2 linked regions of the Homo sapiens genome follow. The protein of the gene in region 1 purifies or fractionates together with the protein of each later gene. This does not show direct contact. Each region holds a gene or a part of one and is shown in the gene's direction. Other genes may lie near its edges.

The links.
Region 2: the proteins of CX3CR1 (region 1) and ITGB3 purify together in Homo sapiens (co-immunoprecipitation; one study listed by IntAct). This does not show direct contact.

Annotation. Positions count from the first base shown.
Region 1 is NC_000003.12:39,262,537-39,267,550, reverse strand, and holds the end of CX3CR1 (CX3C chemokine receptor 1), read left to right. Parts: intron 1-1,032; coding exon of another isoform or gene 1,033-1,041; coding exon 1,042-2,109; 3' UTR 2,110-4,055; downstream 4,056-5,014. UniProt on the Homo sapiens protein: Receptor for the C-X3-C chemokine fractalkine (CX3CL1) present on many early leukocyte cells; CX3CR1-CX3CL1 signaling exerts distinct functions in different tissue compartments, such as immune response, inflammation, cell adhesion and chemotaxis.
Region 2 is NC_000017.11:47,308,249-47,313,262, forward strand, and holds part of ITGB3 (integrin beta-3 precursor), read left to right. Parts: intron 1-1,890; coding exon 1,891-1,956; 3' UTR 1,957-5,014. UniProt on the Homo sapiens protein: Integrin alpha-V/beta-3 (ITGAV:ITGB3) is a receptor for cytotactin, fibronectin, laminin, matrix metalloproteinase-2, osteopontin, osteomodulin, prothrombin, thrombospondin, vitronectin and von Willebrand factor.

The DNA of each region.
Region 1 (5,014 bases):
GGGCTAAAACCAGGAAAGTCCTGGGCAGCCCAAAACAAGGTAGTCACTCTAGAGTGTATGACTCTGTCTGATACCTGCTAAGAAAGAGAAGGACTTGTTGATTATAAGGAGAAGAGGAGGTGAAATGGTTCTCAAAAAACAAAGATGAGGGCTTCCGGGTGCTGTTCTGCCCAAGGCTCTGGGTCTGAGGCTTCTCTCTCCAGGCCTAGCTTCATGGAAAAGTAAGGGGCCAGAGGGTGGAAAAGGTGGAAACAAAGGAAGAGGATGGAGAATTGCTTTGGGGAAGTTTGGACTGGAAGTGTGAATTACAGCTGCACCCCCAATTCACCCCATCTCACCCCCCTCCCCCTCCTGCTCATGGTTCTCCCTTTCTCATCCACACATTGGTCAAACTAGCTAGCTTTTGGAGAGATTTTGGGCAGTAAAAGTAAAACAGATCTGTCTCAAGCTTCAAAAAGCCTAGAGCTGGCTGGGCGCTGTGGCTCACGCCTGTAATCCTAGCATTTTGGGAGGCTGAGGCGGAAGGATAATCTGAGGTCAGGAGTTTGAGACCAGCCTGGCTAACATGATGAAACCCCATCTCTACTAAAAATACAAAAATTAGCCAGGCGTGGTAGTGCACGCCTATAATCCCAGCTATTTGGGAGGCTGAGGCAGGAGAATCGCTTGAACCCCAGGGGACAGAGGTTGCAGTGAGCTGAGATCGCACCACTGCACTCCAGCCTGGGTGACACAGCGAGACTCCATTTAAAAAAAAAAAAATGCCTAGAGCCAAATGCTCACAGAGCCATTTACTGCATGGCTTTGGGCAAGTCAAAGGAGTCCGCCTCTCCTGTCAGAAGAGTCTGTTGCAGTCTTCATCACAAGACTGTTGTGGGGATTAAACAAGATGGCAAGTGGGAAGTTGGGAAATGTAGTGTGCACCCAACCAATATTTGTTTCTTCCTGCCTGCCTACATATGAGGCCACACAGAATTCCAACTTTGTTTCTCTGATAACTAACACAGTTACTTGTTTTTCTTTCTGATCCAGGCCTTCACCATGGATCAGTTCCCTGAATCAGTGACAGAAAACTTTGAGTACGATGATTTGGCTGAGGCCTGTTATATTGGGGACATCGTGGTCTTTGGGACTGTGTTCCTGTCCATATTCTACTCCGTCATCTTTGCCATTGGCCTGGTGGGAAATTTGTTGGTAGTGTTTGCCCTCACCAACAGCAAGAAGCCCAAGAGTGTCACCGACATTTACCTCCTGAACCTGGCCTTGTCTGATCTGCTGTTTGTAGCCACTTTGCCCTTCTGGACTCACTATTTGATAAATGAAAAGGGCCTCCACAATGCCATGTGCAAATTCACTACCGCCTTCTTCTTCATCGGCTTTTTTGGAAGCATATTCTTCATCACCGTCATCAGCATTGATAGGTACCTGGCCATCGTCCTGGCCGCCAACTCCATGAACAACCGGACCGTGCAGCATGGCGTCACCATCAGCCTAGGCGTCTGGGCAGCAGCCATTTTGGTGGCAGCACCCCAGTTCATGTTCACAAAGCAGAAAGAAAATGAATGCCTTGGTGACTACCCCGAGGTCCTCCAGGAAATCTGGCCCGTGCTCCGCAATGTGGAAACAAATTTTCTTGGCTTCCTACTCCCCCTGCTCATTATGAGTTATTGCTACTTCAGAATCATCCAGACGCTGTTTTCCTGCAAGAACCACAAGAAAGCCAAAGCCATTAAACTGATCCTTCTGGTGGTCATCGTGTTTTTCCTCTTCTGGACACCCTACAACGTTATGATTTTCCTGGAGACGCTTAAGCTCTATGACTTCTTTCCCAGTTGTGACATGAGGAAGGATCTGAGGCTGGCCCTCAGTGTGACTGAGACGGTTGCATTTAGCCATTGTTGCCTGAATCCTCTCATCTATGCATTTGCTGGGGAGAAGTTCAGAAGATACCTTTACCACCTGTATGGGAAATGCCTGGCTGTCCTGTGTGGGCGCTCAGTCCACGTTGATTTCTCCTCATCTGAATCACAAAGGAGCAGGCATGGAAGTGTTCTGAGCAGCAATTTTACTTACCACACGAGTGATGGAGATGCATTGCTCCTTCTCTGAAGGGAATCCCAAAGCCTTGTGTCTACAGAGAACCTGGAGTTCCTGAACCTGATGCTGACTAGTGAGGAAAGATTTTTGTTGTTATTTCTTACAGGCACAAAATGATGGACCCAATGCACACAAAACAACCCTAGAGTGTTGTTGAGAATTGTGCTCAAAATTTGAAGAATGAACAAATTGAACTCTTTGAATGACAAAGAGTAGACATTTCTCTTACTGCAAATGTCATCAGAACTTTTTGGTTTGCAGATGACAAAAATTCAACTCAGACTAGTTTAGTTAAATGAGGGTGGTGAATATTGTTCATATTGTGGCACAAGCAAAAGGGTGTCTGAGCCCTCAAAGTGAGGGGAAACCAGGGCCTGAGCCAAGCTAGAATTCCCTCTCTCTGACTCTCAAATCTTTTAGTCATTATAGATCCCCCAGACTTTACATGACACAGCTTTATCACCAGAGAGGGACTGACACCCATGTTTCTCTGGCCCCAAGGGCAAAATTCCCAGGGAAGTGCTCTGATAGGCCAAGTTTGTATCAGGTGCCCATCCCTGGAAGGTGCTGTTATCCATGGGGAAGGGATATATAAGATGGAAGCTTCCAGTCCAATCTCATGGAGAAGCAGAAATACATATTTCCAAGAAGTTGGATGGGTGGGTACTATTCTGATTACACAAAACAAATGCCACACATCACCCTTACCATGTGCCTGATCCAGCCTCTCCCCTGATTACACCAGCCTCGTCTTCATTAAGCCCTCTTCCATCATGTCCCCAAACCTGCAAGGGCTCCCCACTGCCTACTGCATCGAGTCAAAACTCAAATGCTTGGCTTCTCATACGTCCACCATGGGGTCCTACCAATAGATTCCCCATTGCCTCCTCCTTCCCAAAGGACTCCACCCATCCTATCAGCCTGTCTCTTCCATATGACCTCATGCATCTCCACCTGCTCCCAGGCCAGTAAGGGAAATAGAAAAACCCTGCCCCCAAATAAGAAGGGATGGATTCCAACCCCAACTCCAGTAGCTTGGGACAAATCAAGCTTCAGTTTCCTGGTCTGTAGAAGAGGGATAAGGTACCTTTCACATAGAGATCATCCTTTCCAGCATGAGGAACTAGCCACCAACTCTTGCAGGTCTCAACCCTTTTGTCTGCCTCTTAGACTTCTGCTTTCCACACCTGGCACTGCTGTGCTGTGCCCAAGTTGTGGTGCTGACAAAGCTTGGAAGAGCCTGCAGGTGCTGCTGCGTGGCATAGCCCAGACACAGAAGAGGCTGGTTCTTACGATGGCACCCAGTGAGCACTCCCAAGTCTACAGAGTGATAGCCTTCCGTAACCCAACTCTCCTGGACTGCCTTGAATATCCCCTCCCAGTCACCTTGTGGCAAGCCCCTGCCCATCTGGGAAAATACCCCATCATTCATGCTACTGCCAACCTGGGGAGCCAGGGCTATGGGAGCAGCTTTTTTTTCCCCCCTAGAAACGTTTGGAACAATCTAAAAGTTTAAAGCTCGAAAACAATTGTAATAATGCTAAAGAAAAAGTCATCCAATCTAACCACATCAATATTGTCATTCCTGTATTCACCCGTCCAGACCTTGTTCACACTCTCACATGTTTAGAGTTGCAATCGTAATGTACAGATGGTTTTATAATCTGATTTGTTTTCCTCTTAACGTTAGACCACAAATAGTGCTCGCTTTCTATGTAGTTTGGTAATTATCATTTTAGAAGACTCTACCAGACTGTGTATTCATTGAAGTCAGATGTGGTAACTGTTAAATTGCTGTGTATCTGATAGCTCTTTGGCAGTCTATATGTTTGTATAATGAATGAGAGAATAAGTCATGTTCCTTCAAGATCATGTACCCCAATTTACTTGCCATTACTCAATTGATAAACATTTAACTTGTTTCCAATGTTTAGCAAATACATATTTTATAGAACTTCCATCTGTGTAATCTTCTTTCTCCTATTCAATTATTTCCTGTGGTTAAATTCATTGCCATGGGGAAAACTGAGTCAAAGGGCATGGGAACACATTATCTTTGCATACACACATATGAAAGTCATATATTACACAACCTTTACTGAGTCGTATTATATACAAAACATGAACGCAGATCCAGAGCTATTCCAAAGGCAATGAGACCAAGCCTCTTCCCTCAATAATTTAAATGCAGAAGAGAAGTGAAGGAATAATCACGCTTTGCATTAGGTGGTAGCAGAGGAGTACTACGTGACTTCTGACCTGCGTCTTTAAGGGACAGGGGTTCTCCAGGTAAAGAAAGAGGTGGCATTCCAGGCTGAGGAAACAGCATGTATAAAGGAAGTGTGTGAGAGCCACAATGTGAGAAAACTCTGTGCGAATATTAAAAGGCGTTAGAAGCGGAGTGGGTGGTAGGAACTTTCTGAGCTGAGCTGTTAGCTGTGGGCTGAGCTAAAACAACCAATGGAGGGGGTGCTGGTTCTCCTCAGGGTGTTTACGGGGTTTCTTCGTTATTACCTGATCCTCATTCCAACTGTTGAACCATAAGACTTTTAATTAAAGTTTAACCTATTCCTGGACTTCTAAGAAGGAGGAAATAATTATTTTGGCTTGAGAAATAAAAGAAGAGAAATAAACACTTTCATTTCTAGAAGAAAATTAAATTTGTAACATTAGGAACCTATATTTATTCATTCATTTTGCTGAATAGGACAGAATAGGGAGAAAATAAGGAAGCTCATTGAAAAATCCAAAATAGCAAGGATGTTGGTGTCTAAATAAAGGAAGGCATTTTTGGAAAGGACAGCTGGCCCTCAGAGCACACCTGAATCAGACCCACTCCTGCTTCTGAGGTCTGGGCTTCCCAAGAGCAGAGGGATCTGCCTGTGATGAATCCCGACATATTAACTCTCTGCTTCGG
Region 2 (5,014 bases), on another chromosome or scaffold:
TTAAATAAGCATTTACTGAGAACTTTCTATATACTTAATCTTACTCTATTCTCTTTTGGCTCTTCTTTCACATTTCAACTTTTTTCCTCGACCCTCCAAATGGCTATTTGACTCCCCAAATGTCCAGAGTTAGGCTGCAAGTTTGTTCCCATTTGATGTTGACCCCAGAGCTTTATACTCAAGGGTCCCAAGAAACTGAGATGTTTCTGTTAGAACAGTGTGGAACATCCTGTACCTATGAGGCCCACAGGAATGTGTTTCTTTCTCTTTTTTTTTGGAGACAGAGTCTTGCTCTGTCACCCAGGCTTGAGTGTAGCGATCTTGGCTCACTGCAACCTTGGCCTCTCAGGTTCAAGTGATTCTCCTGCCTCAGCCTCCCAAGTAACTGGATTACAGGCGCCAGCCACTGTGCCCAGCTATTTTTTGTATTTTTAGTAGCGACGGGGTTTCACCATGTTGGCCAGGCTGGTCTCGAACTCCTGACCTCGTGATCACCCGCCTCGGCCTCCCAAAGTGCTAGGATTCCAGGCGTGAGCCACTGCGCCTGGCTAAGAATGTGTTTCTTGAAGCTACCATTATAGGATTTGTTACTTTCTGTTGGAAAATAGTTTGGGAAACCTAGTGAGGGTCTTACTTTTTCCTGATAACATGACAGTTTGTGGATAGTGCTTTCTCTTTCTCTCCCCTCCTCTCCCATTCCCTCCCCTCCCCTCCCCTCTCCTCCCCTCCCCTTCCTTTTACGCTTCCTCCCCTCCCCTTCCCTTCCTCCCCTCCTCTCCTTTTCTTTCCCTTCCCTTCCCTCCTTCCTTCTTTTTTTGAGACAGGGTCTCGCTCTGTCACCCATGCTGGAGTGCAGTGGTGCCATCATGGCTCAATGCAGCCTCCATCTCCTGGGCTCAAGTGATCCTCCCACCTCACCCTCCCAAGTAGCCAGGACTACAGGCACACATCACCGAGCCAGCTAATTTTTGTATTTTTTTCCCTTGTAGAGACAGGGTCTCACTCTGTTACCCAGGCTGGTCTAGAACTCCTGGGCTCAAGTGATCTTCCTACCTTGGCCCCTAAAAGTGCTGGGATTATAGGCATAAACCACCATGCCTGGCCATGGTTAGTGCTTGGCCAGATTAGATGAAAACAAATTAATAATTATTTGAGCAAAAGCTTTCCTCTGTGTTCTGAATTGCACCTGATACATTTCTGTCCCTTGTCCACATCTCCTATCACTGTCACAGGGAATGGAAAATAGGAGAAGGGCAAAAGAGACGGGGACACAGGGGTGAAATAGGAGAGGTTCTATCCCCGAATGCTGTGGAATCACTGAAGAGTGATAGGCTGAATATAGCTCCTTAGAAATAGTGGCAGGGAACAGGTGTGGTGGCTCATGCCTGTAATTCCAGCACTTTGGGAGGCTGAGGCAGGTGGATCGCTTGAGCTCAGGAGTTTGAGACCAGCCTGGGCAACATGAAGAAACCCCATCTCTACAAAAAAATGCAAAAATTAGCCAGACATGGTGGTGTGTGCCTGTAGTCCCAGCTACTTGGGAGGCTGAGGTGGGAGGATGTCTTGAGTCAGGGGAGGTGGAGGTTTCAGTAAGCCGAGATTGTGCCACTGCACTCCAGCCTGGGCAACAAAATGAGACCCTGTCTGAAAAAAAAAAAAAAAAAAAGAAACGGTGGCAGGATGGCATTCTACCTCATCTCCTCCTGTTATTTCCTATCAATTCCCATGCCAAGAACTAAAGTGTGAGCAAAATGAACATTATTCTGTTTCATTGATGATGTATTCCAGAGAACGGTGCCTTGGGAAAACTTCTGAGATGAATTTTAAACATTCAGGGTAGGGAAGGACTTAAGGAAGTCACTGTAAGATGCTATTCTGTTTCCTCCACAGGCCAACAACCCACTGTATAAAGAGGCCACGTCTACCTTCACCAATATCACGTACCGGGGCACTTAATGATAAGCAGTCATCCTCAGATCATTATCAGCCTGTGCCACGATTGCAGGAGTCCCTGCCATCATGTTTACAGAGGACAGTATTTGTGGGGAGGGATTTGGGGCTCAGAGTGGGGTAGGTTGGGAGAATGTCAGTATGTGGAAGTGTGGGTCTGTGTGTGTGTATGTGGGGGTCTGTGTGTTTATGTGTGTGTGTTGTGTGTGGGAGTGTGTAATTTAAAATTGTGATGTGTCCTGATAAGCTGAGCTCCTTAGCCTTTGTCCCAGAATGCCTCCTGCAGGGATTCTTCCTGCTTAGCTTGAGGGTGACTATGGAGCTGAGCAGGTGTTCTTCATTACCTCAGTGAGAAGCCAGCTTTCCTCATCAGGCCATTGTCCCTGAAGAGAAGGGCAGGGCTGAGGCCTCTCATTCCAGAGGAAGGGACACCAAGCCTTGGCTCTACCCTGAGTTCATAAATTTATGGTTCTCAGGCCTGACTCTCAGCAGCTATGGTAGGAACTGCTGGGCTTGGCAGCCCGGGTCATCTGTACCTCTGCCTCCTTTCCCCTCCCTCAGGCCGAAGGAGGAGTCAGGGAGAGCTGAACTATTAGAGCTGCCTGTGCCTTTTGCCATCCCCTCAACCCAGCTATGGTTCTCTCGCAAGGGAAGTCCTTGCAAGCTAATTCTTTGACCTGTTGGGAGTGAGGATGTCTGGGCCACTCAGGGGTCATTCATGGCCTGGGGGATGTACCAGCATCTCCCAGTTCATAATCACAACCCTTCAGATTTGCCTTATTGGCAGCTCTACTCTGGAGGTTTGTTTAGAAGAAGTGTGTCACCCTTAGGCCAGCACCATCTCTTTACCTCCTAATTCCACACCCTCACTGCTGTAGACATTTGCTATGAGCTGGGGATGTCTCTCATGACCAAATGCTTTTCCTCAAAGGGAGAGAGTGCTATTGTAGAGCCAGAGGTCTGGCCCTATGCTTCCGGCCTCCTGTCCCTCATCCATAGCACCTCCACATACCTGGCCCTGTGCCTTGGTGTGCTGTATCCATCCATGGGGCTGATTGTATTTACCTTCTACCTCTTGGCTGCCTTGTGAAGGAATTATTCCCATGAGTTGGCTGGGAATAAGTGCCAGGATGGAATGATGGGTCAGTTGTATCAGCACGTGTGGCCTGTTCTTCTATGGGTTGGACAACCTCATTTTAACTCAGTCTTTAATCTGAGAGGCCACAGTGCAATTTTATTTTATTTTTCTCATGATGAGGTTTTCTTAACTTAAAAGAACATGTATATAAACATGCTTGCATTATATTTGTAAATTTATGTGATGGCAAAGAAGGAGAGCATAGGAAACCACACAGACTTGGGCAGGGTACAGACACTCCCACTTGGCATCATTCACAGCAAGTCACTGGCCAGTGGCTGGATCTGTGAGGGGCTCTCTCATGATAGAAGGCTATGGGGATAGATGTGTGGACACATTGGACCTTTCCTGAGGAAGAGGGACTGTTCTTTTGTCCCAGAAAAGCAGTGGCTCCATTGGTGTTGACATACATCCAACATTAAAAGCCACCCCCAAATGCCCAAGAAAAAAAGAAAGACTTATCAACATTTGTTCCATGAGCAGAAAACTGGAGCTCTGGCCTCAGTGTTACAGCTAAATAATCTTTAATTAAGGCAAGTCACTTTCTTCTTCTTAAAGCTGTTTTCTAGTTTGAGAAATGATGGGATTTTAGCAGCCAGTCTTGAAGGTCTCTTTCAGTATCAACATTCTAAGATGCTGGGACTTACTGTGTCATCAAATGTGCGGTTAAGATTCTCTGGGATATTGATACTGTTTGTGTTTTTAGTTGGGAGATCTGAGAGACCTGGCTTTGGCAAGAGCAGATGTCATTCCATATCACCTTTCTCAATGAAAGTCTCATTCTATCCTCTCTCCAAACCCGTTTTCCAACATTTGTTAATAGTTACGTCTCTCCTGATGTAGCACTTAAGCTTCATTTAGTTATTATTTCTTTCTTCACTTTGCACACATTTGCATCCACATATTAGGGAAGAGGAATCCATAAGTAGCTGAAATATCTATTCTGTATTATTGTGTTAACATTGAGAATAAGCCTTGGAATTAGATATGGGGCAATGACTGAGCCCTGTCTCACCCATGGATTACTCCTTACTGTAGGGAATGGCAGTATGGTAGAGGGATAAATAGGGGGCGGGGAGGGATAGTCATGGATCCAAGAAGTCCTTAGAAATAGTGGCAGGGAACAGGTGTGGAAGCTCATGCCTGTAATTATAACCTTCAGCTACTAAGACAGGTGTGGTGGCTCACGCCTGTGATTATAATCTTCAGTTACTAAGACAGAGTCCATGAGAGTGTTAATGGGACATTTTCTTTAGATAAGATGTTTTATATGAAGAAACTGTATCAAAGGGGGAAGAAAATGTATTTAACAGGTGAATCAAATCAGGAATCTTGTCTGAGCTACTGGAATGAAGTTCACAGGTCTTGAAGACCAATATTATTTGTCAATATGTGGGGATAACCTGTAGCTGCATTCATGAGGTAGCAAATAGCAGTTTTGGCCTGTGGGGTGAACAGCTAAACAGTGTTCTGGCATCAGATAACACGGCACAAAGGGATTGTGTCTAGCTCTTTTGGAGAAAATTTATGTCCAGTCTCAGGATCTGTGGACAATAACGGAAAACTTTGAATATTCCTGACAAGTTGCCATATTAGGAGTCAGTTCTTTACTTCTCTGAGATTCCCAGGTCATCCATGATTTTTTTTTTAATTTGAGACAAAGCCTCACTCTTGTTGCCCAAGCTGGAATGCAATGGCAAGATCTCAGTTCACTGCAATCTCTGCCTCTCAGGTTCAAGCCATTCTCCTGCCTCAGCCTCCCCAGTAGCCGGGATTACAGGCACCCGCCACCACACCCGGCTAATTTTTGTATTTTTAGTAGAGACGGGGTTTCACCATGTTGGCCAGGCTGGTCTCGAACTCCTGACCTTAGGCGATCCACCTTCCTCGGCCTCCCACAGTGCTGGGATTACAAGTGTGAAGCAC